4 linked regions of the Homo sapiens genome follow. The protein of the gene in region 1 interacts with the protein of each later gene in a pairwise test. Each region holds a gene or a part of one and is shown on either strand. Other genes may lie near its edges. The genes, in order: DZIP1, MECOM, PPP2R5A and PPP2R5C.

The links.
Region 2: the proteins of DZIP1 (region 1) and MECOM interact in a two-hybrid assay, tested with the Homo sapiens proteins (one study listed by BioGRID).
Region 3: the proteins of DZIP1 (region 1) and PPP2R5A interact in binary tests that used the Homo sapiens proteins (3 or more experiments, as listed by UniProt).
Region 4: the proteins of DZIP1 (region 1) and PPP2R5C interact in a two-hybrid assay, tested with the Homo sapiens proteins (one study listed by IntAct).

Annotation. Positions count from the first base shown.
Region 1 is NC_000013.11:95,634,882-95,642,656, forward strand, and holds part of DZIP1 (cilium assembly protein DZIP1), read right to left. Parts: intron 7,361-7,775; 5' UTR 7,149-7,360; coding exon 7,113-7,148; coding exon of another isoform or gene 6,975-7,112; coding exon 6,414-6,974; intron 1-6,413. UniProt on the Homo sapiens protein: Molecular adapter that recruits protein complexes required for cilium assembly and function to the cilium basal body.
Region 2 is NC_000003.12:169,112,501-169,120,275, forward strand, and holds part of MECOM (histone-lysine N-methyltransferase MECOM), read right to left. Parts: intron 4,240-7,775; coding exon 2,883-4,239; intron 375-2,882; coding exon 287-374; intron 1-286.
Region 3 is NC_000001.11:212,342,011-212,349,785, reverse strand, and holds part of PPP2R5A (serine/threonine-protein phosphatase 2A 56 kDa regulatory subunit alpha isoform), read right to left. Parts: intron 7,599-7,775; coding exon 7,506-7,598; intron 3,984-7,505; coding exon 3,853-3,983; intron 2,440-3,852; coding exon 2,380-2,439; intron 1,398-2,379; coding exon 1,289-1,397; intron 598-1,288; coding exon 544-597; intron 1-543. UniProt on the Homo sapiens protein: The B regulatory subunit might modulate substrate selectivity and catalytic activity, and might also direct the localization of the catalytic enzyme to a particular subcellular compartment.
Region 4 is NC_000014.9:101,877,644-101,885,418, reverse strand, and holds part of PPP2R5C (serine/threonine-protein phosphatase 2A 56 kDa regulatory subunit gamma isoform), read right to left. Parts: intron 3,259-7,775; coding exon 3,148-3,258; intron 2,163-3,147; coding exon 2,070-2,162; intron 1,988-2,069; coding exon 1,857-1,987; intron 1-1,856.

The sequences.
Region 1 (7,775 bases):
CGGTTTGTTTTGGAATAATTATTAATAACTGGATCCAAATAAGACCCTATCCCTATCCTGTAACTGATGGTTATGTCTCTTAACACTCTTTTAGTCTATAGGTTTCCCCTCCACCTCTTTTTTTTCCTTGCTATCCTTTTGCTGAAGGGGCTGAAGCTTGTCCTGCAGAGTTTCCCTCCATTTGGATTTTGCTCTTTTCATGCCCATTGTGTCACTGAACATGTTCTTTTGTTCACCATGCTGCCTTACTCTTAATCAGTGTAACTGCATCCAGACTTCAGGCTTTGGTTTCTAAAACTAACATTCTGCATATTTCCTTTTTTTTTTTTTTTTTTTTAAGTGTCTCCCTCTGTCACCCAGGCTGGAGTACAGTGGCGTAATCATGGCTCACTGCAGCTTTAACCTCCCAGGTTCAAGCGATTCTCCTGCCACAGCCTCCTGAGTAGCTGAGATTACAGGTGCCCGCCACCACTCCCAGCTAATTTTTGTATTTTTAGTAGAGATGGAGTTTCACCATGTTGGCCAGGCTGGGCACGAACTCTCAACCTCAAATGATCCACCCACCTTGGCCTCCCAAAGTGCTGGAATTACAGGTGTAACCCACGGTGCCCAGTCATATTCTGGTATATTTCTTGGTATTGCATCTCAGAGAATCCCTAAAGCATCTCTTCAACCTCCCGGGCTCATGACAGCTTTGGTTCACCTATAGAACTTTAGGGACCCCTCACACCAGCTCTGATGTAAGTCATATAGGCTCTCGGGCTGTGTACAGCACTGGAGAAAGGAAAGGAAGAGGAAGCTATGCCTCCCTCTCTCCCCACCCCACCCCAGAGTTCACATGTTGCCAGAAGGTGTTCTAACGATACTGTTCCTAACAGAGACAGAGACCATCCAGCCTTCAAACTGCAATACGGCCACTCTATCAGGGCAAGTAGAATGCTTCAGCAGGGCTGCCCATGTAAGTGTAAGATGAGAGAAATGCACAGTGATGATGGAGAGGATGCAAACACACCACCCTGTCAAAGGGAGGAGGGGAAAAAAAGGTAGGGAGGTAAGGAGGTAGGGAGGGAAAGAGGGAAGGAAAGAGGGAAGGTAGGAAGAAGGAAGGAAGGGAGGGAGGGAGGGAGGAAAAGGGAGGAAAAACATGGCATGCAAAAATAAAGCTTACTGCAGGGGATCTATAAATTAAGAAAGGAATCTAAAGATGTTCTTCACAATCTATTCACATCACAGAACATAAGAGTAGCATACATTCTATAAAAATGATATGATTTTTTAAAAAACCAGAATGAGTTTAAAAAGAAAGATAAAATACAAAAAAAAAAAAAAGATCTGAAACATCATTGCAGAACAAATAAATAAGAAAAAGCAAGGAATAGGGCCGGGTGCAGTGGCTCACGCCTGTAATCCCAGCACTTTGGGAGGCCAAGGTGGGTGGATCACCTGAGGTCAGGAGTTTGAGACCAGCCTGGCCAACTTGGCGAAACCCTGTCTCTACTAAAAATACAAAAATTAGCCAGATGTGGTAGCACATGCCTGTGATCCCAGCTACTCGGGAGGCTGAGGCCGGAGAATCGCTTGAACCTGGGAGGTGGAGGTTGCAGTGAGACAAGATTGCGCCACTGCACTCGGGGCCAGGGTGACAAAACAAGACCTTGACTCAAAAAAAAAAAAAAAAATAGAAAAAAAGAAAAGAGAAAGCAAGGAATAAAAGAGACACTGTTGAAAACTGAATTGCTCACTAAAGGAAAGGCTGACATAATTTATCACAGTGAATGTAGATTAGAAGGAAAGAATTAAAGCAATGAGAAAGAAACCAAAGAGTACGGAGAACTAATGGACAAAATCAATACTGCATAAAGGTAACTGGTTTCCCAGAAGTAGAGAAGCCAAAAATGAAACAAAATTTAAAGACTGAATACAAGAGTGTTTCTCTGAAGTGCAGTGAAAGCTGAATCTGCAGATTAAGAATTCACCAGGTTCCAGGGAAAACTGATACAGAACACTCAACACCAAGACATACCCTAGAAAGCTACTAGGCTTCAAGCAGAAAGAAGGGACTCTTCAGTCATGCAGGCAGAAAAAGCAAGTCACTCACAAGAAAAAAACTTTAGGCCACCCTCAAACTTCTCACAGCAACATTTACTGCCAGAAGACAAAGGAACCACATCAAAAAGTTCAGAGGGAAAGTGTGACTAAGAATATTCTTCATCCAATATGTCTTTCAAACTTGATAGAGTTGAAGAAATGCAGCACTCTTGGGCCTTCTGGGTAAGACAAATCATTTTGACAATCCTATGAATTAAGAGATAATTCAAAATGAGAAACTCAAGAATGGAGATGTTGAGGTGAAAGGATTTTGAATGAGCACATAAATATAAAACCAATGAAAAAAACAAGTAAGACATTATGGCTGAGTAAGAGAATGTGAATGTTACCAACCTGGATAGTGTAACTCTCCAAACTGGGAGAGAAGCCCTGACTCCAACTGTGACTGTGTTTGGAGATGAGGCCTTTAATGAGATAATTAAGGTTAAATAAGATCATAAGGCGGGGGGCCTAATCTGATAGGGTAAGTGTGGCACAGTGGCTCACACCTGTAGTCCCAGCTACTTGCAAGGCTGAGGCGGAAAGAATATTTGAGCCTAGGAGTTTAAGGCCAGCCTGGGCACATAGCAAGACCCCTTCACTTTAAAAAAAGAAAAAGAGAGAGACATTAGCGATCTCTCTCTCTCTCTCTCTCTCTCTCTCTCTCTCTCTCTCTCCAAACACAGAAAAGGCCATGTGATGAGGACATAGCAAGAAGGTGGCTGTTTACAAGCCAGGAAGAGAGGCCTCACCAGGAACCATCCCTGTTGACACCTTGATCTTCAACTTCCAGCCTCCAGAACTGTGAGAAAATACATTTCTGTTGTTTAAACCATCTAACCTGTGTTATTTTTATGGCAGCCTTGGCAGATTAGTACAGATCTATAAGTATAATATCATTTATAGAAAATTTTCAAACTTAAAAACACTGTCTTATGAATACATATGTTCATAAAAATATTTTATATGTTCATAAACATAAATAGGAAGGATATAGTCAAACAGATTTTCTCTGAGAATCGAGGAAGGGAAAATTATTTATTTCTAAGATGTTTAAAACTCTTTAAACATTTTGCTATCTTGGAAATATAGCAAAATGCTAACCTGAGTTCAATCTTTTTTTTTTTTTTTTTTTTTGAGATGGAGTTTTGCTCTTGTCACCCAGGATGGAGAGCAATGGCGTGATCCCAGCTCATTGCAACCTCCACCTCCTGGGTTTAAGTGATTCTCCTGCTTCAGCCTCCCAAGTAGCTGGGATTACAGGTATGCGCCACCACACCTGGCTAATTTTTGTATTTTTAGTAGAGATGGGGTTATACCATGTTGGCCAGGCTTCTCTTGAACTCCTGATCTCAGATGATCTGCCTGCCTTGGCCTCCCAAAGTGCTGGGATTACAGGTGTGAGCCACTGCGCCCAGCCTAACCTGAGTTAAATCTAAGAGGTGGGTATATGGTATGTCTTACATTAGTCTATGCACTTTTTTGTATGTTTATAATATTTCAGTACTAATTTTTATTTGAAAATCGATGAGATTTTTCTTTTAAAATCCCCCATATATGGGTATTCACTATATTGTTGTTTTAATTTTTCTGCATTTTAAATTTTTTAAATAAAATATTGAGGAAAAAGACCTTACACATTGCCATCACTACCCCCCTTATACACAACACACACACACACACACACACACACGCACACCCCATGGGGGAAAAAACCCATTAGGATGCGTGCGTGTGTGTGTCTGTCTGTCTGTGTCTTCAAGCCTTCAAGAACAGGCATCTTTAATTTTTTTTTGTCTCAGCTACTCAGTTCTTATGATTTCTTAAAGCAAAGGGAGTAGAGACAAAGAGAAGTGGTATGAGAATGAGAATGAGACCACAATTTCTCAAAGGTAAAACTGATAATGCGGTGGACCCAATCATTGTGTCAGAACAAGGAGTCTAGGCTTTGGATTTTCTGTATAGGGGAAGAAAGAAAAACTCACATGATAGCAGTCATATGATTGTTCACATTTTGTAGTAAGTCAGCTTTAGTATTTGTCATGCCACAAAACGTTTTTCCCTCATTCCCAGGTATTAGCTAAAACAATAACTAACTACATGCCAAGCACTGCTCTAAGCACAGTCTATGCACTAAGTCATTCAATCCCCATTAACAACTGCTATATGGTAGGTACAATTAATATTCCCATTTCACAGAGTAGAAACTGAGGCACAGGGAGGTTGAGCAACTTGCCAAGGTCTGGTAGCTGAAAAAGTAGTAGGTGTCACTCATTTGATAAATTGAGTCATTACCTTTTAATCATTACTTATCATTCACATTTGAAAATCTTCTCTTAGGCCAGGTGTGGTGGCTCACGTCTGTAATCCCAGCATTTTGGGAGGCTGAGGTGGGTGGATCACTTGAGGTCAGGAGTTTGAGACCAGCCTGGCCAACACGGTGAAACCTCGTCTCTACTAAAAATACAAAAATTAGCTGGGCATGGTGGTGCACACCTGTAGTCCCAGCTACTCAAGAAGCTGAGGTGGGAAAATCGCTTGAACGCGGGAGAAGGAGGCTGCAGTGAGCCAAGACCGCACCCCTGCACGCCAGCCTGGGCGACAGAGTGAGACTCCATCTCAAAAAAAAAAAAAAAAAGAGAGAGAGAGAGAAAGAGAAAGAAAGAAAATCTTCTCTTATAACAGCCATTTCTATAGTAACCCCAAAAAAGGAAAAAAAAGTTTATAAACATACAATTTCTGTATGTTAGAGGTTTTAACATTTCACTAGATGGCTGCTAAAGCTGGACTATAATAAATCTTTAAAAATGTTTAAATAGAATCCATTATATTCGTTGCACAAGAAAAAAACCATCTTAGCACTATTTGTAAATATTTAATTTTTAAGCAGCATTTATAAAACAAATAAGCAATTAGCAATGCCCAGTGTCATTTGAAGATTATACCTCAGGGTTGTCTACCCAAGACCAAACACTAAGTCCTTCTAATAATATTCCTAATTGTTCCCTTATCTTTTTTATTTTTATTTATTTTTTTTTTTTTGAGATAGATTCTCACTCTGTTGCCAGGCTGGAGTGCAGTGGCGCTATCTTGGCTCACTGCAACCTCCGCCTCCTGGGTTTAAGCGATTCTCCTGCCTCAGCCTCCCAAGTAGCTGGGACTACAGGCACATGCCACCAAGCCCAGCGAATTTTGGTATTTTTAGTAGACACGGGGTTTCACCATGTTAGCCAGGATGGTCTCGGGTCTCAATCTCCTGACCTCGTGATCCGCCCGCCTCGGCCTCCCAAAGTGCTGGGATTACAGGTGTGAGCCACTGCACCCGGCCACTGTTCCCCTATCTTAAGAACACTCAACACTCCTGCTGGGTCAGTCCTGAGCAATATTAACTGCACCATTTTCTCTGCCCTGCACCCAGTTCTCTCCAGCATTCATGCATCAGCTCCACTATTCCTAAATCCAGTGAGGCCTTTTAAGCCATAGTCAGCCGAAAGGACTAGAAAGTAAGGGCATGACATCAATCTTGTTAATCTGTTGCTTACTTCAATATCTTTCTCAATCATTGTTTATACCTTCTGCACTTCCTCCAACTAGTCAATAAAAAAAAAATACATTGGTTTATGTTATACTCAAAAATTGCAATATTTATCTTGGACTCAATGTCTAACCCAAAACAGTAGAAGATTAAGACCAGAAGATAAAAATATTTTATTCTTTAAATACTGTTATGTAAGTGAATGTTCTTGTTCTTAGAAAATATACACATCGAAATATTTAGGATCTGCAACTCACTGTGAAATGGTTCAAAAGTAATAATAATATGTATACAGAAATAGAGGGACTGTGGAAAATGTTAATAATGGGGGAATCTGGGTGAAGGGCGCATGAAAATTCCTTACAGTCTCCTGGCAACTTTTCTGTCAGTTTGAAAGTATTTCAAAATTTATAAAAATGAGAAAAAGACCCTACAAATTTAAACATTCTGCATCGTTTGGGGACTGGCTTCAACAGCAATTTGTATATGGTTTTTTCATGTTGAGGTTGATTCGGAGGAGGAAAGTGTTTCAACAACCAGCATTTAGATAACTTCCATAAAGCACCACAGACGACATTTGTTGTTTAATTATTAATCCCCTGATTGTCTGCAGAAGGTAATGAACCATGACATTTGTTGGTTAAATGACTGTTTTTGCTTAAATATACTGTGTCTTCTGATATACAATATAAATCTTTAAGAAGAAAGAGTGGTGATACGGGACAGGCCTATCAAATGGGAACTGAGTTGTTTACTGGATTATGAATCGTGCTCACACACAGCTGCCCACCTGGTAATAGTTGGCTTTGGCCTCGATCATCAGCTGCTGGGTGGAGATCATCTTCTTCCGGCGTTTGCACTCTTCCTTGAGCGTCTTGATCTCCCCCGCCTGCTTGGTGAGCAGCTTCTTGCTCTGCTCGCCGTCGCAGTGGCTCAGGCGCAGCCGCTCCTCCAGGGTGTGCAGCTGCGAGGTGAGGAACTCTTGTGAGTGCAGCAAGTACTCGATGGTGAACTGCGCCAGACGGATGAGCTTCAGCAGCACCGGGTCCACCCCCGACTGGCAGTGTGGGCACTTCTCGTCTTCCAGCTTGCAGAAGGTGATGTTCATGATGTTCTCCTGCAGCGTCAGCACGTCCACAGCCCCCGCCACCTTGTCCACGTCGATGGCGCTCAGCCGCCGCCAGTCCACACTCTCCAGCCGCGGCCTGAACTGGAAGAAGGGCAGGGGCCCCGAAGCCGCGCTGGGGGGCGCACAGGCCATGGAGGCCGCACCCGCGGCGGCGGCGGCCACAGCGACGTCGGGCCCCTCTGGGCCGCTGGCGAGCGGGTAGTAGACATGCTTCTGGAAGGGCTGCGGGGGGCACAAAGAGAGCGCGGCGGGAGGCGGGGATGGGGGGCGGGCAGGCTGGGGAGCTGGGGGTCCGGGGAAGCCCCGGTTCTCCCCAGCCCGGCATCCCCGTCGGGGGCGCCCCGGCCTCCCGCCTCTTACCATGCTTGAAAACCAATCCGCTGCCTCAGCTTGCATAGGAGGAGCCGGGCGGTCTTTACCCAGCCTGGGCCGCCTCCCGGGCCGCCGCCGCCACAGCCCTCAGGAGCGGGAGAAGGCCGGGTTCCTCGCTTCCGCGGCGGCGGCGGCCTAAGGTCTGGGCGTCCAGGACGTTGCTATAGCAGCGCCCAGGTCCGGACCTGGAGCAAAGGGCGCGTCTGCCCGCGCAGGGTCAGCGTGCACCCAGAACCCTGCGGGACCAGAGAAGACCTCTTGGACGAGCCCGAGTGGACACAGCCGTTCACCCGAAGAGGGTACCTCCTGGGTACCGGCTCCCCAGGGCGCCACCCTCCCTGGCGTTTGGGGCTGGACACTCCATGTCCCTAAGGCAGGCGTGGGGAGCCACATCCCTGGGAACCTTTGGTCTTAACTGCCATCCCCTGGTTATTTATTCACTGTAGCCCTGGCCTTAGGCTTTGAAATTAGAAATATCTATTCATTCCATCATTAATAGAAAAAGAAAAAAAAAGTAGTATCTATTCATCCTCATCTTTTACACACGATTTAGAAAACATTAAGCAATAAAATATATATAATTAAATGTGATAGAGGGGGACTCGCTGCAAAAGGGCATGAGGAAGCTTTTGGCATAACAGAAATGTTTTT
Region 2 (7,775 bases), on another chromosome or scaffold:
TATTTTCTTAACTGAATCCTGCTCACTCCAAAATGCACTTTAACTCAATAAACAGTTAATAGCAGACAATCATTTAACACTGAAATCATGTTATTTTTACACATATATTAACTAATTTTTCTTTAAAGAGTTTGGGTTTTAATTCTGCTAGAATTTCCTGTGTTCTTCCACACCAGCGTCATAGGAAATCCTAATGTTCTCAAGATGTCTTTCATTTCATTGCACCTGCTTTTCAGGATCAACAAGTTAGTTTACAAGCTGGAAATCTCAAATCCAAAATACTTACTTGTGGGTGAAACAAGAATCCTGGAGAAGGCCTCAAGTATTTCTCTTTTAAAGCTTCAAGTGGGTCAGTTAGTTTTCTTTTCTCTACTCTGAAAGGTTAAAATTAGATTTTGGAGATGAAGCAGTCTCACATATCAATCACTACATAATCACTGACATTTAAAGGAACTAACAATAAAGTCAATGGTAGGTTTCTGGGAAGCGCACTCATAAAACTATAGAGACATCTGTCCAGTTCTTGGAGATTCCTCATGACACTTCTAGGTGCTTAAGAAGAAAAGTTCCTATTTATAATGGAAAAACCCTACTGAATGACTAGGAATAGGAATAACGAGAAAACATGAAAAATAAGGAGTCACTAAATTAGAGGCATTTGTCATGAATTCAGTACCTTTCCATTCCAAATGTAGACAAGAATGCTTAATGATTTTGAAATCATGAGGTCAAGGCTGATTTTGAATATTAGAGCAATTTTCTACCAAGAAGGTGTTCTCCCAAATGTGCACTTTATTCCTTCCATATTTGTCAATAATAGTAAGGGCATTTCCAAGCATATACACTGCTAGCCACTCTTTGAGGTTCTCTCTCTCTCAATATATATTTATATTTAAACATATAGCATAATATATTGATATATAAATATTTTATGTAAATTATATTTAATATATATTCAGAGAGAGAGAGAGAATATATGCTCTTTGGATGCCACTGCTGATAAAGAAGGCAGGCAGATAGAATGGGTGTGGTGAGAAGAGAATGGGGAGCTTTCTGAAGATAGAGAGAGACACATAAAACTTACCTATATATCCCTTCTGCTTTAGAAATGTTTGCCATTCTATTTTGTATTAAGCACATAGGGAAATAATATCCCTATGTTGAATTAATTCATTGAATTAATTTCTTTTACCAACTTGGTAATTAAAAAAACTTTTAGATATGTGCACTCTTAAAGCAGAATAAAATACCTACCACTTATTGATATTATATATGTGATATATGTGTGTTGCATATACTATTTCACTTTTTGAAGTAGGTGATGTTATATCCATTTTATGCTTTTTTTTTAAGTCTCAGACATGAGAAGGCTGAGGTTGCAACCCAAGTCTGACACTAAAACTGGATTCTAGGTCTTTCATGAGTTTGGCAAAATGACAGGCCTAGGTCTTAATTGAGACAAGCACCAGAGAGATGTTGGAGATCACAGTGAGTAAGAGGAATGCTAGTAGGTGATGAGGATGAGTGCAAGAGATATGTGGAAGAATCAGAAGCCAGTTGCTACTGAGAGGGTACAAAAAGGAAAGCCTGAAAAATTATCTTAACAAAGGACTGAGACACATCATTGAGTTGGAAATACGACTTTACCCGAAATGTGTGACATACAATCTACACACAAAACACGGAAGACATGTTTTTCTTTTTTTTCCTTCTCTGGTAACAGGACTGCCAAACTAATTGAGATATAATAATTTTAAAAAGCAGCCAAACTTGGTACTGACAGCACTGAGTTATTTTGTATTGTCCTTTGATACTACTTTATCATATTCAAACGAGGGTAGTCCTTTCCATACTGACAGTGTTTCCTTGTTAACGCATTATAGATAATATACATAGAAGAAGAATTGTAAGTGAGAAGAACTTGCAGCTCTAGTACCTATTAAGTAATATGAACTTGATAAATATTGTTGAATTAAATAATAGCACATTTTCTCTTCACGAAAGAGAATTAGGCAAAATATGAAAATACTCCGATGTTAAATAAGTTCAATAAAAAATTATCCAGATGTTCCATGAACTCTTGACAATGTTCAAGATTAGAATGAGAAAGTAAATGTGAAAATGTTTGTAATATTCAAAATATGTAACAAACATATTATTATTCATACCCATTTAAAGAAAACTAGTATTTTAAAACTAAATCACTTTGGTCAGGTGAATATTACTGAATATTGCCAAAAAGGCCTTTTATTAAACTTGTATGTTTCACCCCAAGATTTTTTTGCTACATCAAAGGAAACCGGATAATGAAGCTATTAAACAGAGACATTTTTTAAGCCAACTACTCATATTATATACAAAACATATTCTGTGATTAATATTTCATTTACTTGGGGGCTCCTGAGAGATTTATTTAGAAACAATATGACCAGCCCTTATTAAGGATGTGTTGGTAGGTCAAAAAAGAGTGGACTCTTGCTGTTAGATATCCCCCCCATTCCAAAGAACCTGACCCATTTAAGTACCCACGCATATTTGCATTAATCCTTCAGGATCCTCATTCTTCCGCCACTTGACAATTTACTTTAAATATGACTTTCCCATATTTTCCACTCCAAAAAAAGTGTTTAAAAATAAATTTATTGTCAAGGGAAAAAAATTCTGTAGGCCTATTCCAAACCCCCAACTTCAGAAACATCCAAAAATAAGTTCAAACAGAATGATCCAACTTTCAGAATAAAAAATGAGTTCACTAGATCAAACAACTTCACTCTGTTTTATAATAATAGTAAAAATGATGTGTTAAAAAGCCATCACTTTACAGTGGAAATACCGCCTTTCATACATCTGCTCATATTTCGTCATCTTCCATACACGCTTACCTGTAAATAGGGTCCATAAAGAAAGGAGTGGGTCTTGCATGCTGCAAGGAACCATCTGAAGCAGGTCTTGATTCGACGTTGCTTCCTTTTTTTCCCCCAAACACGTGGTTTTTTCGAGGCTCAGTCAGCTTTGTCCCACTGGCTCTACTCCTACTGCCCATACTTAGATCCAGGGGCTGGTCTTGGCTTGTGGCAGGTGTCACTGGAGGCTTGGAGGGGACTGGAGTCAAGGGCTTCTCATCCTTTCGCTTAGTGGTGAGATCAAAGGGGGACTCAGAGCTGCCCTTCTGCAGTTTCTTTACTTCACCTGGTGATTGGGGTTCCATTTTCAAAGGTAACGATCTCAAGTCTCTATCAGGAAATGGGTACATTGATTGAGAGAATGCTGGAAAAAATGGGAGGGGAAACATGGAAGGGTAAGGTAAAGCTCCAACTTTTTTGTCTTGCAGCCCCACCAGTCCTGTTGAACCAAAGTATTTTTCAGCAATAGAAGCAATAGCCTTTATAGAATCATTCACAGCTCCTGACACCGCAGTCTGCTCCTCTAAAGATGGTGAGAAAATGGAATGATTGCTGTATTCTTTCTTATTATTTATTGAAGCCAGATTCTGAAGAGGGCTTACTTTGTCTTTGAACATTTTACCATTTTCTTTAAATTTCTCTTTATCACTTTCAATGTCACTTTCCAGATCAGAGCCCGAGGTTGTTTCCAGGTCACTGCCACTTGGTGTACTGACATCATCAAGGTCACTACTCTCTGACTGGTCACTGATTTTCTCAAAGGGCCTCTCTTCAGAGGACCTCTCGGGCTGGAGCTCCACTGGCTTATTGTCCCCTACAGATGGGTGTTTAGATAGTGCCTTCAAAATATCCTGTGTAGCTGGCAGTATCTGAGGATGTGTCATGAGGGGACTTTGACTTTTGTTTGTCTGTTCAGTACTTGATAGTCCTTTAACAGGAGAACTAGCAGGTATCAAAGGAGGCCTGTGGTACAAGCCGGAAGGAAACAGACCAGGGAAGCTAAAAGAAAATCCAGGAGCTGTTGGAAAGGTAAGACCAGCAGGATGCCTATTGGCGCCAAAATAGTCAGCAAGGCCCGGGTTGGCATGACTCATATTAACCATGGACGTTTTATCCATAGCTGGGGTTCCAGGAAGTGAAATGCCTTGGCCAAAAAATCCACCTGCCGCAAAATGGTTCTTGCCCTCACAAAACCTCCTGTGTTTATTTAAGGAAGACGTAGTGCTGAACATTTGTCCACAGTCTTTGCACTTGATTTGGGTTCTGCAATCAGCATGCATGCGCTTATGACGGCAAAGGTTTGAAAACTGAGTATAGGATTTATGGCAGACCTCACCTGTGTGCAAACAACAAAAAAGAATCTCAGGCTTTATGTCAATTGCTTCTGAATTTAGCAAATATCACAATTGGTTTACTCAAAATTTCAATTAGGAAGCCAGTAAAAGACATTGGAGGCACCAATCTGGGTGCTCCAAACACAGAAAACCCCATTTCACTAGATTCCAAAGCAAGGCAACCAACCTGACAAATGTCTTGAGGCAGCACAAATATTTCATATATATAGATATATATATCTTGTCACCCCCTTGTGCAATATTTTGCATAATATTTGTGTATTTAAATATTTATGAAAAGTTAAATTCCATCATGCATTGATTCTCCACACAATTATTATACTAATATAATGTTGAAAATTAGTCTTAAAATGCATTACGTACAAAACACAACAAGAACCCCTTTCAAATTTTAGAGTACTTAAAAATTCTATTTTGTAGGCACCAAAACAAAATAAAATATCCTCAACCAGAAACTTCACCTTTATTGCCTCTCCCCTTGGGGAAAAAGCCTGTGACTGCCCTGCTATTATTTAATTGGTATTATATCATATGCTCTCATCATTCACACATCAAAGCCACACAACAATGCACATTGTGTATTCTGAGACTTTTTTTAACAATCATTTTCATGATTTGAGAAAGACTGACATAATTTACAATGGCTCTATTTTAAGCCTGCAAAGGAAACTAAATTGAATGTAGCCCATCCTGCATTGCTGGTTCCCATGAACTATGATCACGTCCTCTGACTTCCCCTCACACCAGTGGTTGTGCTAACCTTCCTGCATTTATGAAAACCCCGTCCTTGGGAAACATGTCCACTTGTTGTCATATCTACACTGGTTATCTCAGGCTTGACTTCTGTGTGTTATAGCCAACTATGCTCAGTAGGGGAGAGCACTGTGAAAGCTCTAATCCAGAAAGAAGGGCACAGCATTGGATGCAGCTGTGAAATATGCCTCTTTGCTAAGAATTTGTCAATAAAGTAGAATCTTCCTCCTCACACATGTGCCACTATAGCCAAGTATATTTTAAGACCAAACTTTGTAACCCTTAATAACTCCTTTACCAGGTAAGAATCACTCACTTCACTGTCCAGCAGTATTACAGTATCAGTACCCTGAGCATCACATTTTTTATTTTACTTTACGGGATTGAGCCACGTTATGTGTGAGCTTATTTTAACACTTCTGTGCATGTTCAATACATGCAGAAACAAGATGTACCTTGTTGGTAATTGTTGAAGCAAATTTATTTTAAGAAATTAAATTGAAGACAAAATGCAACAGTTATTGCTTTCATATGATGGCTGCCTTTAAGTGCAGAATGATTGTGCTTCTAAGTCAAAGCAATAATAATTAAAAAAAAAAACTCATGTCAAGGAGATTTTATAGACTTTCAGTCAAGCAAAACTCACCCAGAGCTTGGATTATCCCACATACATCCAAACAGGAAGTACCAAGTAAGGGTATATCTCTTTCTTTTACTACTAAAGGTTAAAGTGTATTGTTGCATATATCAAAGTGTTTGGTAATATTAAAGGTGCCTTCAATTGTGGGATGAATCACAACGTTACAGAGGCTGTAACATGCATTTTAATGGGAATAGAAGATGTGGGTGATATCTTTTCAAATTATTTTACCAGAATATATCGACCAGAGTCAGCTTTAAAAGTATATACAATTTAACCATACACCATAAATATACATCTAATTTAAACTGTTTGATACACTAATTAAAATCAAATAATGGAGAAGGTAGAAACATCAGATGTTTACTAGATATATTAGAATAATTTATAGCTACAAGCAATAACAATATTTTATTATTGGAATTATAAAAAGTAAGAAAGCAACACCTCTTAAAAGGCATTGAAAAAATGTCTTGATGAGTATTCAACCAAGACATAAGTTTTTCAAAGACTTGTCATTTTTTGGCAAGGAAATGTTGCTCTCTACACTTCTTTCTTACAATCAGATGGCTTAAAAAAAAAAAATCAAGAGCTTCTCTCTATTGGAGTAACAGAAGTTCAGCTGACTTTTCTGGTGGCACCCGTTGTTACATGGCTGAGTGCTGTCTGTGTCTGGGCTCAAGAACATCGAATCTGGGATGTTTTCTTAGGCAGAGGCTTTGTTTTCGGCACTTGAAGGCCTGGCCTGGCATACCACAAACTACCAGGCCTCCAGGTAAACTGGTTCAATTGATGTTGAAGTTTATACTCTACTGTAATTTTCTCAGTAATAAGGAATTAGCCAGCAGTTAACATTGCATTTTTCTACTTATTAAACAAATTAAGAGGCATTTTGAATATATTCAGCCTATTAGAGCATGTGGTTTCTATTTGGGAAAGCTGTAGGTTTCTGTAAAGGCAGTGAGTAATTACCTTAGCACTGGTGACTTTGGGCTCAAGCGTGGCAGCACACTGTAATAAGAGACAGTTGCCATAAACACACCAGTGGGGGTAAATCGTGGTGTGTGGCCTTCTGGTGAGAAACAGATATCAGCCCTAGGTGAACCTCCTCCACTCAAGTCTCCACACCATTTCCTGATCTTTAATCTCTTTTGTTCTGAAATTACATGGCTATTATTCATAATTACTCCATGGTTCTCTGGCAGATTTTAAATTTGAAGAATGCCATCTGCTATTTAAATTTACCAATAATTACTGAAAATACATTCAAGGGAAATACTTTATGCAATCTGATTGGAAAGGGACACCCTATGGCACTTTAAAGTGAAACACTTGTCTTCAACACAATTAAAATTCCAGATCCCAGAATCTTCGATAGCAGAAGTCTATATTTTCTGACTTTTATTTTAAATAATAGAGAAAGCATTAAATGAGTGATCAGAATTCCTTGTGGTTTATTCTAGTTTTTTCTCACATCAAAACATAATAAAACTTACCAAAATTTATTTCTGAGGAATCAGAAATAAATGAACTATTTAATATCGTATGCCTGTAGTACTTCCAAGTACATTTTCAGGGCATTAAGACTTAAGAGTCAGGAATGCCTTTTTGCGACAAGAAGTCTAAAATTTCTATTGAATGCTTTATTTCCCGTGACCTTCAATAGAGCTTCCCCAAGGGAGATGAGAGCACCCTTTTTTAATCTGCTAGTCCTCTTCACCCGGGGAACAGAAGAGCATATGAGCAAAACAGGACTCTAGTGTAAGCTGGAAAAGGAAAGAAAAGCTATTTTGGTGCTTGGACACACAAAAGAAAGCTGTGTCGAGGCAAAGGAGAGTTAGTCTCTGGCATCTCCATGTTGGCACTGAAAAATAGTTTTTTCCATCAGGTCCTGTAGTAGTGTCTCATATACCTACTACAAACCAAAGTCAGAGGTCTTGCCAAGTGCTGAGTATGCTTCAACCAATTCTATGTGTATCTGGGTCCAAAATCAGTCTTGACGTTTGTAGCACAACTCAATAAGTCATTGTATTTATATGCCCCGCCAAGCAATGGATTAAAAGAAGCCCAGATTTTTTGCCCAGGTAGACTAAGAACAACTGATTTTACTTATAAAATGTTTGA
Region 3 (7,775 bases), on another chromosome or scaffold:
AATAACAGTAGAATTCAAAGCCTAAGTTGCCTTGCTGGTTCATAAACTACTTTTATTCCAAGATTACATCTTATATCTTAATCACCAAAAGCAAGGAAATGTTTTCTATCCCTATCAAGTGGTTTATTGTTAATGAGTGGCAAAAATTCTATTATTAAAAACAAAACAAAATTCAAGGGAGTAGTAGTTTTGGGACCCTCGAAGTATGCTTTAATTCCAAAAGGTGAATGAAGATTTAAAAGATTATTGGTGAAGACAGTATGCATATAAAATTTCACTGTGGTCATCTGATCCTATCATCGTACATCTTAACTACTACATATTAATAGTAGTCTATATTTCGGTTATTCAAGACATAACTCACGAGAACTCTCCCCTCCTAACCCCTTCTTTTAATGTAGATTAATCTCACATTTCTTCTTCTAAATGATTTTAGCTTAACGTACATTATTCTACTTAATAACTATAAAGGCTATAAAACGAAAGCTACAATGAAATGCTATTAATGCAGACCAAAAACATGAAAATAAATAGAACACTTACTGGCTCTGTTAGTGTTGTATCTTTCTCCAGGAACTGTACAACACAATATGCTAGCTAAAAGGTAAGGGACAGTTTATAAATATTAGTGAGATAACATTTAATAATGTAGGATTTTTATATTTAGCCAATATTTTTTAGACTACCTCATTTTGATAAATTATTCCAATATATAAAAATATACTCACAACTGTGAATGAAATTGTGAAATACCTCAATCGTGAAACTATACTCACAATTGTGTAACTTTTTAGCCTTGAAAGTAACTTCAAGTTTAAAAAACATTTTTAGTAGTAATTTCTGACTATAAAGTTAACTGAAATAAGACTAGAGCTAACAATTTAGTTTTTCAGCATGTTTCTACATGTACACCTATGCTGATATATTATTCTCTAAATATTAATAGAAGAGACCAAAATCTCTCTAACTAGGTCTAGGTTATTGCAGCTGGAAGAAACATTCTGTAGATATGTGGGATTTATTCAAAGTCACATAATTAGGTCAAGACCTGGACTATAATATGAGGAAAGTGTGTATCTTAAACTGTAAGTGTAGATATAGAAATTAAATAATTGGTCTTACTTAACAACTAAATACTTTAAAATAAGAAAAATTTGCTTTGGGTAATTTTGTAAGCAAATTGCTTAATTATACTTAAAACTGTCATCTCAGTATTTCTCAATTTCTCTGCCTTTATATTGGCCTTTGAAATAATATTCATTTCATCTGAAATGTTTCTGAAACTTACCTGAGCATGAAACAAAGCTAATCCTTTTGCAGTATGCATAGGAATAAGAACCTTCATTAGAAATTGTTTATGTTCTGCTTTCAGTGGCAATGCAAAGCCATTGATAATACTGGAGGGAAAAAAAGGCAGGGGAAGGGTTAAGTAGTTACTACTTTGTTTCTAAAAGCTGTCATATCCATGAGTACATAAGGAACAGTGCTATGCTTCAATCCTGGTGTTGTATGACTGCTCATCTTCAAACTACTTTAGGAAGACTATTACTATGAAGTCTGTTCCTCTAAGTCATTTGATGATTCCAAAAGAAAATTAGGACTGTCAATTAATTCCCAAGTAATTTCTATCTTCATTTTCTATCAAACCTGTCACTTTATGCATTGTTGCTTTTATTTTTGCCCCCAAAGCTCCAGGAGAGTCAGTACCACAATATTGTTAGAATGTTCAATATTTTTCTGAAGTAAATGGGTAATTTTTCTTACTTTGTTGGATAACGTGAAAGAAGTAGTTCTCTCCACAATCATTTTCTACTATTAATAAAGGAAACTAAAATCATTGTCTAAATAGTAACAGAAGGGTCTAAAATTCTCTTAATACTAATACGTAGTGAATAAGGAAGGCAAAGTGTTATGGCAAAAGGTAATAAGAATTCAGCTGAGGCTGGGCATGGTGGCTCACGCCTGTAATCCCAGCACTGTGGGAGGCCGAAGGGGGTGGATTGCCTGAGGTCAGGAGTTCAAGACCAGCCTGGCCAACACGGTGAAACCCCATCGCTACTAAAAATAAAAATTAAAAAATTCGTTGGGTGTGGTGGCAGGCACCTGTAATCCCAGCTACTCAGGAGGCTGAGGCTGGGGAATCTCTTGAACCCGGGAGGCAGAGGTTGCAGTGAGCCGAGAACGCGCCATTGCACTCCAGCCTGGGCAACAAGAGCGAAACTCCGTCTCAAAAAAAAAAAAAAGACTTCAGTTGAGAAACTATGTGTTCTACATTTAAACTCTAAAATATGACATAATTTCTCCAACCCCAGCTAAGATTTTAATACATAAAACATTCACTTACTTAATTCTTAAAAAGAACAAAAAAACCTGACCTACCTTCCTAATATTTCAAGAAGTTCAGCAACACCATTGAAATGTTCTGTTTCATATATAAACCTGAATTTAAAATAAAGACAAGATGTAATCAAAATCAAACTTCAGAAAACTAAGAGAAACAGGCAGGAGGGTGAAGAAATCAATCCAAAGGACAGCTATTAGAAACACACAAGCATGTTTTGGGTCTTATAAGCAGTTTTGCCCCAAACAGTTAATTCATATCAATCTTAAAAAAGAAGATGTTTCCTACTGAACTACATATGCCTTTGCCAAAACTCGCCATATGTGAAGATAACAGATTGTCATTTCACCTGGAATATTCAACTTAATAATTAATAAGAAAGATAAGTTTCCTCAAAGAAATACTTTTTAAAATAAGAAACCTCTAATTATAGGGAAATCCAAGAGAAAAAGACCCATATGTAATAAAGCCATTTTTAATCAGAATTTCTTTACACCTCTAACTATATAGGCTGCATAGCTTTCCAAGATTAGGGCTGCCTTTAAAGCAGGGAGACATAAATATAATAGGGCAGATATTTGAAATGGGCTTAGGAAGTGATGACAGAGAACTGGAGAAAGATATTCACTCTAGAGGAGGCAGATATTACTCATCTCTAATTGTTGCAATGTGGGAATAGTAACCAAATTTTGCCAGATCTTCAATTAATTAAACAAACCAAACCTTGAATGTGGGTGTTGTTATGAAATCTCCTGATCTGAAGCAACTACTTAACAGATTAATATTTATAAAGTACACTTGGCCCTGTATCCGCAGGTTTCATTATCTGTGCATTCAACCAACTACAGATCAAAAATATTTTTGAAAAATAAATACAAATTTAAAATATAGAATAACATCTATTTGCACAGCATTCACACTGTATTAAGTATTGTAAGTAATCTAGAAATAAAGTATACAGGAGGATGTGTGGACGTTATATGCAAATACTGTGCCATTTTATATAAGGGACTTTGGATTCTGCTATTAGCAGGGGCCCTGGAATCAATCCTCCCCAGATACTGAGGGATGACTACAAGCAAATGATAGGCCCCATATAAGAGGACTGCTTGAGTTCAGGAGTTCAAGACCAGCCTGGGCAACATACATAGTATGTTACATATATACTACGTTACATATATATGTTACACATATATACTATGTTACATATATATGTTACATATATATACTACGTACATACAGTACATAGACCTTGTCTCTACTAAAAGTCAAAAAAATTACCCAGGCGTGGTGGTGCACACCTGTAGTCTCACTACTTGGCAGGCTGAGAGAGGAAGATTGCTTGAGTCTGGGAGATGGGGGCTACAATGAGCTATGTTCTCACCACTGCACTCCAGCCTGGATGACAGAGTGAGACCCTGTCTCAAAAAAACAAATAAAAATAAAAGAACTTGAATACAAGAAGATATGTAGGAGGAAAAGGTGCAATATACAATAAATGATTAATTTACCTGAGGAAAATGTTGTTAATTTGTTTTCTGATGAATGCTCTTAATCCAAGAAATTTCCCATAAATTCGGTGCAGAACAGTCTTCAGGAAGTCACGTTCTCTGGGATCTTCACTATCAAAAAGCTCCAGGAGCTTTAAAAGAAACCTGAGAAATTACTTTTAAAAAATAATCGAGCTAAAGCTTTATTCTAATTTTGATCTTAAAGATTATCCATGACATCTTTTAAAAATTTTTTAGAGTTCTTCCTTACCACACTGACTTTATTCTTGCTAAGTAATGAAGGTGAGGAAAAGCTTAGGAAATATTTCTTCTCACTTATTTCACTTCAAAATATGACATTTACAATAAATATAAATATTTCAAAAAGTGGATTTTTCTTTACCTTCCCACTGATTTTAAAATTCAATCCTACTCTTGAATACTAAAGAGGCTCACAATTTTGGAGTGTTAAAATTTGGGATTTTTAATGCTTTTTGATCGTCAAAACTACATAGAAAATCGTTTAAGTTTTTAGATTGCAAGTCATCAAATAGTCTTAAAAAGATCCATGTGTAAATGTATATTTCTAGTTTACTAGAAAGATGTACATATACTAAGACTTCTTTTTGTGAATTTACAATAAATTCAAGACAGTTACCATGCAGACATTTGAAAAATTAACATTCAGTTATTAGAATAAAATATTGGCAGATACATACTAATAGAGTAGAAATCATATATAAAATAACACTGGACTAAAAGATGAGGCCAAATTTTTTTTTTTTTTTTTTTAAGACAGTCTTGCTCTGTAGCCTAGACTGGAGGGTAGTGATGCAATCACAACTCACTGCAGCCTCGACCTCCTGGGGTCAGAAGATCCTCCTGCCTCAGCCTCCCAACTAGCTGGGACTACAGGCACATGCCACCACACCCAGCTAATTTATATATTTTTTGGTAGAGACGGGGTTTCACCATGTTGCCCAGGCTGGTCTCAAACTCCTGAGTTCAAGCGATCCACCCTCCTCGGTGTCCCAAAGTGCCAGGATTATAGGCGTGAGCCACTATGCCCAGCCCATAGATTTTTCAGCTTAGCAAATAGCTGAAAAATTTTAAACCAGTTCCACAGTCAGCACTCTCCTATACCTCAATTGGCCCAATCAGTGTACTCCTATATTCTGCACAACTTTTCAGCAAAACCTGAGAGAAGAGACTTTAGAAAAAGTTAAAGTCAAAATCTCAAATTTCCATTTAAAATGGTAAAGAAACTTAATTTCTTCTGTCAAAAAAAACACTGTATTTTAAACATTGGATTTTCTTAGAAAAATATAAAATACTCTCTCTAGAGTACAAGTATCTGTAAAGCTGTCAAGGAATTTTATGTTCTGAACTTTCGTGTTTATAATTACAATAAAGATAGCAAGCTCTGAACCTCATCAGAAGTTCTTATTCCATTTTGTTTTGAATTATATACAATTGCTAACACATGCATCTGAAACCAGAGTGGATGACTTAAATCATATTTATATCTCCCAAAACAACTGCCATACTTATAGTTTCCATTCTTTGTTTGCTAGGCTGTTAAGGCCCTCATGAGACTCCAGCAAAAAATATCTACGGAGTATGAGAATTTTTGTTAATATATCTAATAAGTTCACATCAAATTATTCTAATTAAAAATGGCAGCCGGGCAAAGTGGCTCTCAACTGTAATCCCAGCACTTTGGGAGGCCAAGGCAGGCGGATCACTTGAGGTCAGGGATTTGATACCGGCCTGGCCAACACAGTAAAACCCTGTCTCTACTAAAAGTACAAACAAAAATTAGCCAGGCATGTCGGCACATTTGCAGTCCCAGCTACTTGGGAGGCTGATCCAGGAGAATCGCTTGAACCTGGGAGGCCGAGGTTGCAGTGAGCCAAGATCCAGCCACTGCACTCCAGCCTGGGCAACAAGAGCAAAACAGCCATATAAACTGCTAAAAGCAATTACTGGGCCCTAGCTTCTCAGATAATTCAAGCATTTAAAGTAGAAGGTAGAAAACAGATCCTGCCCCACCAGTTTTCTTTTTGCTCCCCTCACACCACAAAATAATACAGCAGCTTAAATACCTCAAGCTCTAGACTAACAAAGCACTAAGGCAATTGTTCCCCTCAACCTGTTACTGTATTAAATACAATTTCATATGGCATTACTAGAGCTCCCTAATGTATCCCACACAAGAGCTGCACAAGGAAATAAACAGGCATTCATTTGCAATTACCAAAATAACATAACTCCATTTAATGTAATTTTTAGTCATGATTAAAATGTATATGTTACTGTTAATACACACCTAATATTTCTTTATAGTTTATGAAGAGCTACTTCAATGGTTGAAGGAAATATTTTAGGCTGACAATGTTCTTCATTTATCAATCCTTCACAGCAACAGGTCAGAATACTTTATATGAGGTCAAGGGTAGTTATGAATGACCAAAGATCAGCTCTAAATATACCAAACTCACATTAGTAGAATTTTTATCATAGGGCACATACAAAGCGGTCTGAAGGGTAGGAAAGGTCCTTGCAATGATTTTAATCCTGGCCTCAGCATCAAATTCCTAAAGAGGCCTGCATACTCAGGCCTAGAAATGCCTAGAAAGGTTTGGTCTACTTCACAATTTTCTTTGGGGCCAGCCAATTCCATATAGTTAAAAAGGGGCCTTTGGCCAGTGCAGTGGCTCACACCTGTAATCCTAGCTCTTTAGGAGGCTGAGGTGGGAGGATCCCTTGAGGCCAGGAGTTCAAGACCAGCCTGGCCAATGTGGTGAAACCCCGTCTCTACTAGAAATAGAAAAAAAAAATCAGCCGGGCATGGTGGCGTGTGCCTGTAGTCCCAGCTACTTGGGAGGCTGAGGCAGGAGAATCGCTTGAACCCAGGAGGCGGAGGATGAAGTGAGCTGAGGTTGCACCACTGTGCTCCAGTCTGGGCAGCAGAACAAGACTCCCTCTCAAAAAAAAAAGAGGCCTTTAAATTTTTGAAAAGGTTTTGAAAATGAATATATTCTTAGAAATTGTGAATATGTAGGTTCCAAAAATAACAGCTAATAAGCAGTTTATAAAAAAAAAAGAAGGCATCACAATTAATTCTACCTCCTTACGTTCTTAATGATTCCACTTTATCTGTGGTTTAGGAATTGGGTGGTGGGGCTTAGGTGCAAAGAGGAAAGAAAAAGGAAAAGGTAATTGATACTTAGGAAAGGAGCCTAAAGCCCAAATTCCTCACAATGATTCTACTCCTTTTTTCCCCCGTCATTTCAAAGTCCCAATGCTTAAAATATATGTCAAGTTCAAAGACTTACAAATGTAAAACAAAGATTTGCCCATGGATTGAATGGTCATACCACATTTTCTCAGATACTGCAGAAAGGCTTGTTTTTCTGGTATTTATAAAATAACTATGATAATTTAGGATTAAATAGGATAATTTGATTGACTTCATTAGACTCTCACCCTTGATAAAAATACTCTTGTACTCTCAGAGCTAACTTCACTTTTATTCTAATGGTTTGGCAGTAATATTAAGTGCTGTCAAATTAAACCATTAAAGTTTTGAAAGACTACACTATTTTAATAATAAGTTAATAAATCATTGCTAAGATGAATATATGAGAATCTAAGACAAAAGAGTTCCTTACCTGTTGTACGAATTTCTGATCAATGTATCGTTTTGCAATGCTAGGCTGGAAATCAGGGCTCTCCAAAAATCTCAAGAAGAATTCATATACCAACTATGAGAGAAAGTCAAATAAAGGCTAAGATGATGGCTACAGAATATTACCCTAAATAATCACTTCATATTAAAAACACACCTTTTCTTACCAACTTAGTGGGGAGATTTCAGATCTCATTATAAAATGTAATGAGTTGATAAAAAAAATTTTTTTTAAAAATTCACACCTGTACTC
Region 4 (7,775 bases), on another chromosome or scaffold:
GCCGGCACGGGATGGGAGAGGCCGGGGCTGCGGGCCCTAATGACTGCAGACGGAAAGGCAGGGTGCTCCCGACGCAGGCTGTGCAAGCCGGCACGGGATGGGAGGGGCCAGGGCTGTGGGTTTTGGCAGGGGGGGTCTCATCTGCCATCTGTCTGTCTCAGATGCCCCTTTTCTTTTCCCGTGGTCACTGTGACTAAGAAAGGACCCCGAGGCCCGTGTTGGGCGTGGCTGACACCTGGCCCCTTCTCCAGGCCATGGCCCGTGCTCTGTCCACACCCTGGCCCTGCAGCGAGGCTGTGTGGGACCTGCTCATGCTCTTATCTCACAGAGACACGCCATCATACCGTCCCCACCATCACCAGGATGTGTCACTACCTCGCAACATCCTGGAGTCAGATGCCTTAGAGGCAAGCTGACCAGAGAAGCTGTAACTTGTAGAAGAAACTGCTCATTTAGTGAACTTTCCAGGAACAAAAAGAAACAACAGGAACTGTTTCCTCTATTGACATTCACTTGGTGCCACCGCAGTGGGGAGCACGAAACTGGCAGTGGGGTGGGGCGTGCGACAAATCAACTGACATGGTGGCTGCCCTTGCGGGAGACCAGACCCACCGCCAAGTCAGGCAGAGCCTCCCAGTGAAGGGATGTTTCAGGAAGCCTGGGAGGCTGAGGGAAGGGCTGGTGTAAAAAAGACATTCCAGGAGGCTCCAACACTGGCTACAGAGCCCTGGCGTGGAAGGAGCCTGGAGCTGAGCAGAGGCTGGCTGGGGAGGGGCGGGCCTGGAGGTGGGCCTGCCACTGGACTCTGTCCTCCTCCACCGGCTGCTCCAGCGGGGCTTTCCCTCCCCTGGTGCACAGTGGGAGTCTCCAAACCTTTAACCGAGGTGCACAGATCTCAGGCTTTCTACAGATGAATGACATCACTTCTTGCCCCGCCTCCTCTCACTGAGACTCCACGGGAAGAATGAGGTGATGCACAGGTAGAAGGAAAAAGCTGGTGTGAAGGTTAATACTGAGTGTCAACTTGACTAGATTGAAGGATGCAAAGTATTGTGCCTGGGTATGTCTGTGAGGGTGTTGCCAAAGGAGATTAACATTTGAGTCAGTGGACTGGGAGACGCAGACCCATCCTTAACCTGGGTGGGCACCATCTAATCAGCTGCCGGTGCGGCCAGAATTAAGCAGGCAGAGGAACGTGGAAGGGCTAGACTGGCTGAGTCTTCTGGCCTCCATCTTTCTCCTGTGCTGGATGCTTCCTGCCCTTGAACATTGGACTCTAAATTCTTCAGCTTCTGGACTCTTGGACCTACACCAGTGGTTTGCCAGGGGCTCCTGGGCTTTCCGCCACAGACTGAAGGCTGCACTGTCCGTCTCCCTACTTTTGAGGTTTTGGGACTCGGCCTGCAGACAGCCTATTGTGGGTCTTCACCTTGTGATCGTGTGAGTCAACTCTCCTAATAAACTCCCCTTCATATATTCATCTATCCTATGCGTCCTGTCCTTCTAGAGAACCTTCACTAATACAGTTGGTCTGGATGGAACCAATTCATCCACATTTCCAGGAAACTTGACCTTTCAGTAGAAACAGGAACAATGGAGGGACCCAGGATGAGGCGCTGGGGAGCTTGGTGGCTCAGGAGGGAGCTGTGGGGAGAGGGGAGGAAGGCAGGGAGGATGAGCCCAGCAGCCCCCTGCACACAGTGCACAAGGGGGTCCACCTGCACATGACAAATAGGCTTTGAGAAACCCCCTCCACATGCTGAGTCCTGTCAGAGGAGACGATGGGGTAGGGGAGCATCGAGGGGGGAAATGAGCATCACCACACACAAGGACAACGCCATCCACACGTGACTTACCTATAAAATATATTATTTATCTGTTTTCTGATGTAAGCTCTCAAGCCTAGGAATTTCCCATAGATTCTGTGAAGGGTGGTTTTAAGAAAATCTCTCTCCCGAGGATCTTCACTGTCAAAGAGCTCTAAAAGCTTTGAGAAGAAAAAGACACTTAGTGGCTGGGTGTCATCATTCCATCAGGGCTTTCAGAGTGTCAGCTAATTTGTACCTTACCTGCAATACAAACTTCTGATCAATATATTTCTTCGCTATATTAGGTTGGAAATCTGGAGACTCTAAAAATCTTAAGAAAAATTCATAAACAAGCTAGGAGGAAAAAAAACAATGAGTCAAATAACATGAGATTTTATTGAATGGCGGTTAAAATATACCAGAAATTGAATCTTTATTGGTATGCAAATATTAGCCTCTCAAAGCCACATATCTACAGAATTAATGCTAAATTACATGGCTTAATTCAATGATAAATGGTGATGGTAATTATTTTATTTGGTGAAACCCACAGACTACACCCTTAAACGGCATTTAAACAAAATGATCTCCATGGCTGATGTCATCAGTTATAGTACACTGTTCAGGGACTACAGGGCACAGATGCCACAAACCAAGCCATGACCCAACTCTGCAGGGGGGATTTGCAGCCTGTCGCCTAGGAGTGTCCCACAATGCCAAGGCGCAGAGCCAACCAAATACACAGGAACTCTGGGGCTGCCAGGTAAGAGGGCCCTAAGATGTGGACCCAGAATCATGACCTCCTGGAGCTGGGACAATTCTTTCCCTGTGCAGACATGCTGGGTGGGACAGCGTGGGCCGCCTGTCACGGATGGATGGCCCTCCCACCCGCACACCTGGCCCCCGCTCTGCTCATGCCGACCCTGGCGCCTCCTTGCCAACCAACCTTCTGCCTTACAAATGCCCTGGGGAAAGGCAGTGGCCAGCGCAGGACCTGGGGGCCCAGCAGGCACCTATTAAATATGAGGAGCAAAAACTGGGAGATTGTTGGCTTAGGACCTCTGGGCCTGAATTCAATTCAACGGCCATCAACACAGCGGCCATCTTCACTGAGAACATACTCACAATTACACATCTTCACTGGCTGTTGTAAAGTGGTCAAACACACACATTAACTTTATTCTGCTGAAATATTTTTCTTGTACATATGGGTTTACGAGGCCCATGCTACTGAGGAGGAGAGGTCCATCTGGCCAGACCAGTGCGCCCGCTCTGTGGATCCCAGGCCATTCCCATGTGTCACCAGTGCCCTCCGAGTCTATCACCCAGAGCCCGATACCTGTAGATGAGGCCAGGCTGCTTCTAACGTTGGTTCATCTTCCTCCGGGTCAAATTCCGCTCCCGTAGGATTGGAGGAAGGTGGTAATGTTCGAAACATGTTAACTGCAAACTAAAATCCACATATTCTATAATTACAATCAGGGCATTTAAAATATTTACAGACAACATTTTATAAAGTCTTAGGTAATTCTAACAGTAGCCGCTTCCCATGGTAACTTAGCTCCTCCGTATCCTCAAAACGCAGAAGCTGTGTGGGTCCTCAGAGAGAGCCTGGATCAAAACTGCAGCAGGAAACATCACTTTGGACAGGTGCGCACGCAAGTTGACCACCAAAGTTACTTGGACTCTTGACTGTCAAACTTTGAATGACAACCAACACCAACAAAGGCTGATGGCACAGTGATGACTTCTGAGGTCTTATACTATCCAGTGGGTGCAAGACCAAGGAGAATGCTCAAAATGAGAGTAAGAAAGGGATGAGATGACGAAAGACGCAGCAGAGATTCACAGCTGAAAATGCTGGAAATGGCAAGGGCTGCGTCACGCAGGGAGGACCCGTGTGACAATGGCACCAACATCCTCTGCAATCCGCAACGATGAGGAAAGCAACAGTCAGAGTGGGACGACCTTTGAGTCGGCAGCTAAGATCATTTCCAGAGAAAGGACTGCTCAGGGGCACAGAGGATCGGTAGGGGCAGCATGGCTGTGCGCCCAGGCATGGGCTGTTAGATTTCTCTCAGTCTGTTTGGACTTGTATAACACATACTGACAGATCAGTGACATAAACAGAAAAGATTACTGTTTCCATGTCATACATTTATAACCTATTTTTATTTTGTACTAAATCTATGTATTTATTTATTTATTTTTGAGGTGACGTCTCCCTCTGCGGCCCAGGTTGGAGTGTAGTGGTGCGAACTCGACTCATCACAACCTCTGCCTCCCGGGTTCAAGTGATTCTTGTGCCTCAGCCTCCCGAGTAGCTAGAATTACAGGCGTGCACCACCATGCCTGGCTAATTTTTGTATTTTTAGTAGAGATGGGATTTCACCACGGTTTCACCATGTTGGCCAGGCCAGTCTCAAACTCCTGACCTCAAGTGATCCGCTCCCCTCAGCCTCCCAAAGTGCTGGGATTACAGGCGTGAGTCACCATGCCCAACCCTCTTTTATACTAAGTCTAAATATGATTGGTTACCTTATTGAATCTCTGAACGGATCGTATGCCAGTTATATAACTGGGTTCTGGTGAATGGCTCTTATAGGTGATCACAACCCCAGTCCCACCACTCTCAGAAGCACAAAATCAAAACCTTTGACATAAAAGATTAAAATCTGACTCTACGATAACAACGAGAAGATGTTTCTAGAGAGTCCAGGGCAAACTTGGCTGGCTTTAGATACCCAGTCTTGTAAAGACCAAGCTAATACTCAATGTCACCACTGCTGTTTCTTCCCTTTTCTTTTTTCCTCTTAAAGACAGGGCATCTCTCTGCTGCCCAGGCTGGAGTACAGTGGCCATCATCGCTCACTGCAGCCTCCAACTCCTGGGTTCACACGATCCTCCTGCCCCAGCCTCCCAAGTAGCTGGGACTACCAGCACGCACCACCATGCTCTGCTAATTTTATTTATTTTTTGCAGAGACAAGAACTCGCTACGTTGCCCATGCTGGTCTCAAACTCCTGGGCTTAAGCAATCCTCCTGCCTCGGCCTCCCAAAGTACTGGAATTAGAGGCGTGAGCCACCGCACCTGCCTGTTTCTTCCCTTCTTTACTGGTATTGATACTGAACTCCAAACCTTAATATCATTTTTCAGAAAGTCATCAGCTATAAAAGCTCTGAGCATCAAGCATCTGAGTATCAAGCATCTGAGCTTGTTCTCTGTGTCATCTGAGAGGGGAGCTGACGTAAAGACCAACTGTAATGGCCTTCACGGATACTGTAGAAACGCAGGGATGAAAAAAGGGGCTGAAAAGCCAGGAACAACTAATTAAAAAACACTTCTAGTAAAAGTATGAGTAATGTTCCTAAGACATAGGTACAAAGACAAAAGTTTGCAATCTAAAACCGAGAGTTAACCTGACTCTCACTGGTGTTATAATTTCTGGCAATGTCTACTCTCCAGGGACTGTCCCCTCCTCTGTGAAGCTAGTGTGTGTATAGGGCACTGCAAGGAGCCTCCCAAAGAACGGTGATTGACAGGTGGACGGCCCTGCCTCAGTTGCTGGCCCACAGGCACTCGGCGCAGACAGGGGTCTAGTCTGCCCCTCCTGGCACCCTGACCCCAAAGCCCACAGACGTGAACAAGCAGATGCTAAAAGCTCAACTATTAAGGAAAGGCCACACACACACACACTTTGGGCAGGCCGCCATGTCCTCCCAGGGTCCTGTCATTAGCAGCCACTGCTGAAGCTCTCCATAACTTCCAGGGCCATGAAGGGCAGAGAAAGGAAAGTCTGAATTGAGTCTTTAGCTCCTACGGGGAGTGTGGCATTCGTGAACTGGGGTTTCTACCCTCTCTCTCAAAGCCAAGAGACTGGGGTGAGGGTCCAGTCACCCACAGGACAGGGTCACCTTCAGGAAAGGGAGATGGCACTTTGTTCTTCGGTGGGTTAGAGCTGTGGGCCCGGCCTGGTGCCGACAGGGGCAGAGCACAGTGTGGGGAGGGCAGAGCCTGGGCACGAACTCTGGGTGGCAGAGGAATCTGTGAACAGGACTATGCCTGGCAGGAGACTCTGGGAACAGCCTGTGACATCAGGGCCTGAGGAACCATGGCGCCTGGAAGGAAAGCACGGTCACTGCTTCCGAGGTTTCTGGGGCTGCCCATCAGGGATACAGAGGCCAGAGCAGGAGCCGTAGGGCCACGCCGCCCAGGAAGCTGCCAAGGGAGAGAGGGGTCAGCTCACCCAGAGACGAGGCTGTAGGTCTTGGGGGAGAGGAAACAGCCGTCCCTCTGGAAGAGGCCTGCTGCCCAAGAGTCACAGACATGCCACAGAGGAAGAGACCACCATTCTGGCCGAGGCCACAGGGAGCAACTGAGCAGAACAGGCAGCTGCCCTTCCCCTCTGCTCTGGGTTCTGCTCAAAGCCCCGGGGGAGGGCGGGCAAGAGGGGCTCGGAGCCACCCTTGCTTCCCCTCCTCTCCCACAGCATGTCCCTCCCTGGCCAGGCTGCCTGGGGTGCGGCTTAGATGCCATTTGCAGAGGGTCTGAGATGAAAGCTTTAACCTAGATTGGATTTCTGTGACCAGGGATGACTAAGAAGTTAACCAACTTGCCTAAGATGTTATTTAGGCACAGGAAAGTGTGATTTCACCCATCGTGGTTAAAGGCGATAACTGAAAAAAAGTAAAATGTCCCCGACTGTGCCAGCTGGCCGTATGTGTCAACCCGGCTAGGCCACAGTGCCCAGCTGTCCAAACACTGCTGTGGGTGTTCCTGTGAAGGCATTTTATAGATGTGGTTAACACCTATAATCAATGGACTTCAAGTAGCGATCACTCTTGAGAATGTGGGGGCTTCAACCAGTCAGCTGAGAGGCCTGTGAGACCCAAACTGCAGCTTCTCTGAGGAGAGTCCACCTGCGGCCTGCAGTGTCCACCACGGCCAAGTCTCGTGCCCGCTGCCTGTCCACGGAGTCCAGACCTGCCCGCTGGACTCACCCACTGCAGAAGGCAAGTCCTTGAGATCTCAATCTCTGTCTCTCCTGCTGTTTCTCTGCACAGCCCTGACTGAGGCACCCAGTCAGCTGAGATTCCTAAGTAAACTGGTGGTTTCTACTAGCAGGAAAGCTAGTGATTAGGGTTTCCAGTTGAAGCTCTCCCGCACAGTGACAGTCAGCCCAGCAGCTAGGCCCCGTCTCAAACACCTGCACACTCACTGAATCCTTGATGCTGAGCTGAGGGCCTGCAAGGTGACTCAGATGGCTTGCTCTGAACACAATGTCCTCTTTTCAGTGTCTGTCATGGACTCAATGCTTGTGGCCTCCCTTCCTCACATTCATGTTAAAGACCTAAACCCTGGTGTGGCTGGATTTGGAGATGGGTCCTCAGAGAAAATAATGAAGGGTGAATGAAGTCATAAGTGGGGCCTTGGCCCTCCAGGATTAGTGTCTTTGTAAGGAGGGATGGTAGAAGGCTCACACTCGCCTTCTCTGCACTTGCTCGGAGCAAAGGCCATGGGAGGGCACAGTGGCCGTCTGCAAGCCAGAAAAGGCCCTCAGCAGGGAACAAACCCTGCTACACCCTTGAGTTTAGACTTTCCAGCCTCTAGAATGGAGAGAAGACACATTTCTGTGGTTTAAGCCACCAGCCTGTGGTATTTTCTTACGGCAGCCTGAGCAGACTGATACAGCGTCCTTGACTGATGACCGACCTAGGTCCGGGAAGGTTCATTCCAGGCCAATTCTGATTGATTGAAAGTCATTTCTCATGTGTAAGGAAAAAAACTTGCACTCCTAACTTCTACACACCTTTCTTACCACATTACATTGCATTAATTTAGTGCATATCTCTAGAAAAGGTTAAGTAAAAAGTAATACTGGGGCGGGGGGAAGGAACAGAGGGCCAACGGTCTATCACCTCAAATTCTTCTTGGGTTTCTGACCTAGCAACATTTCTTAACACAAA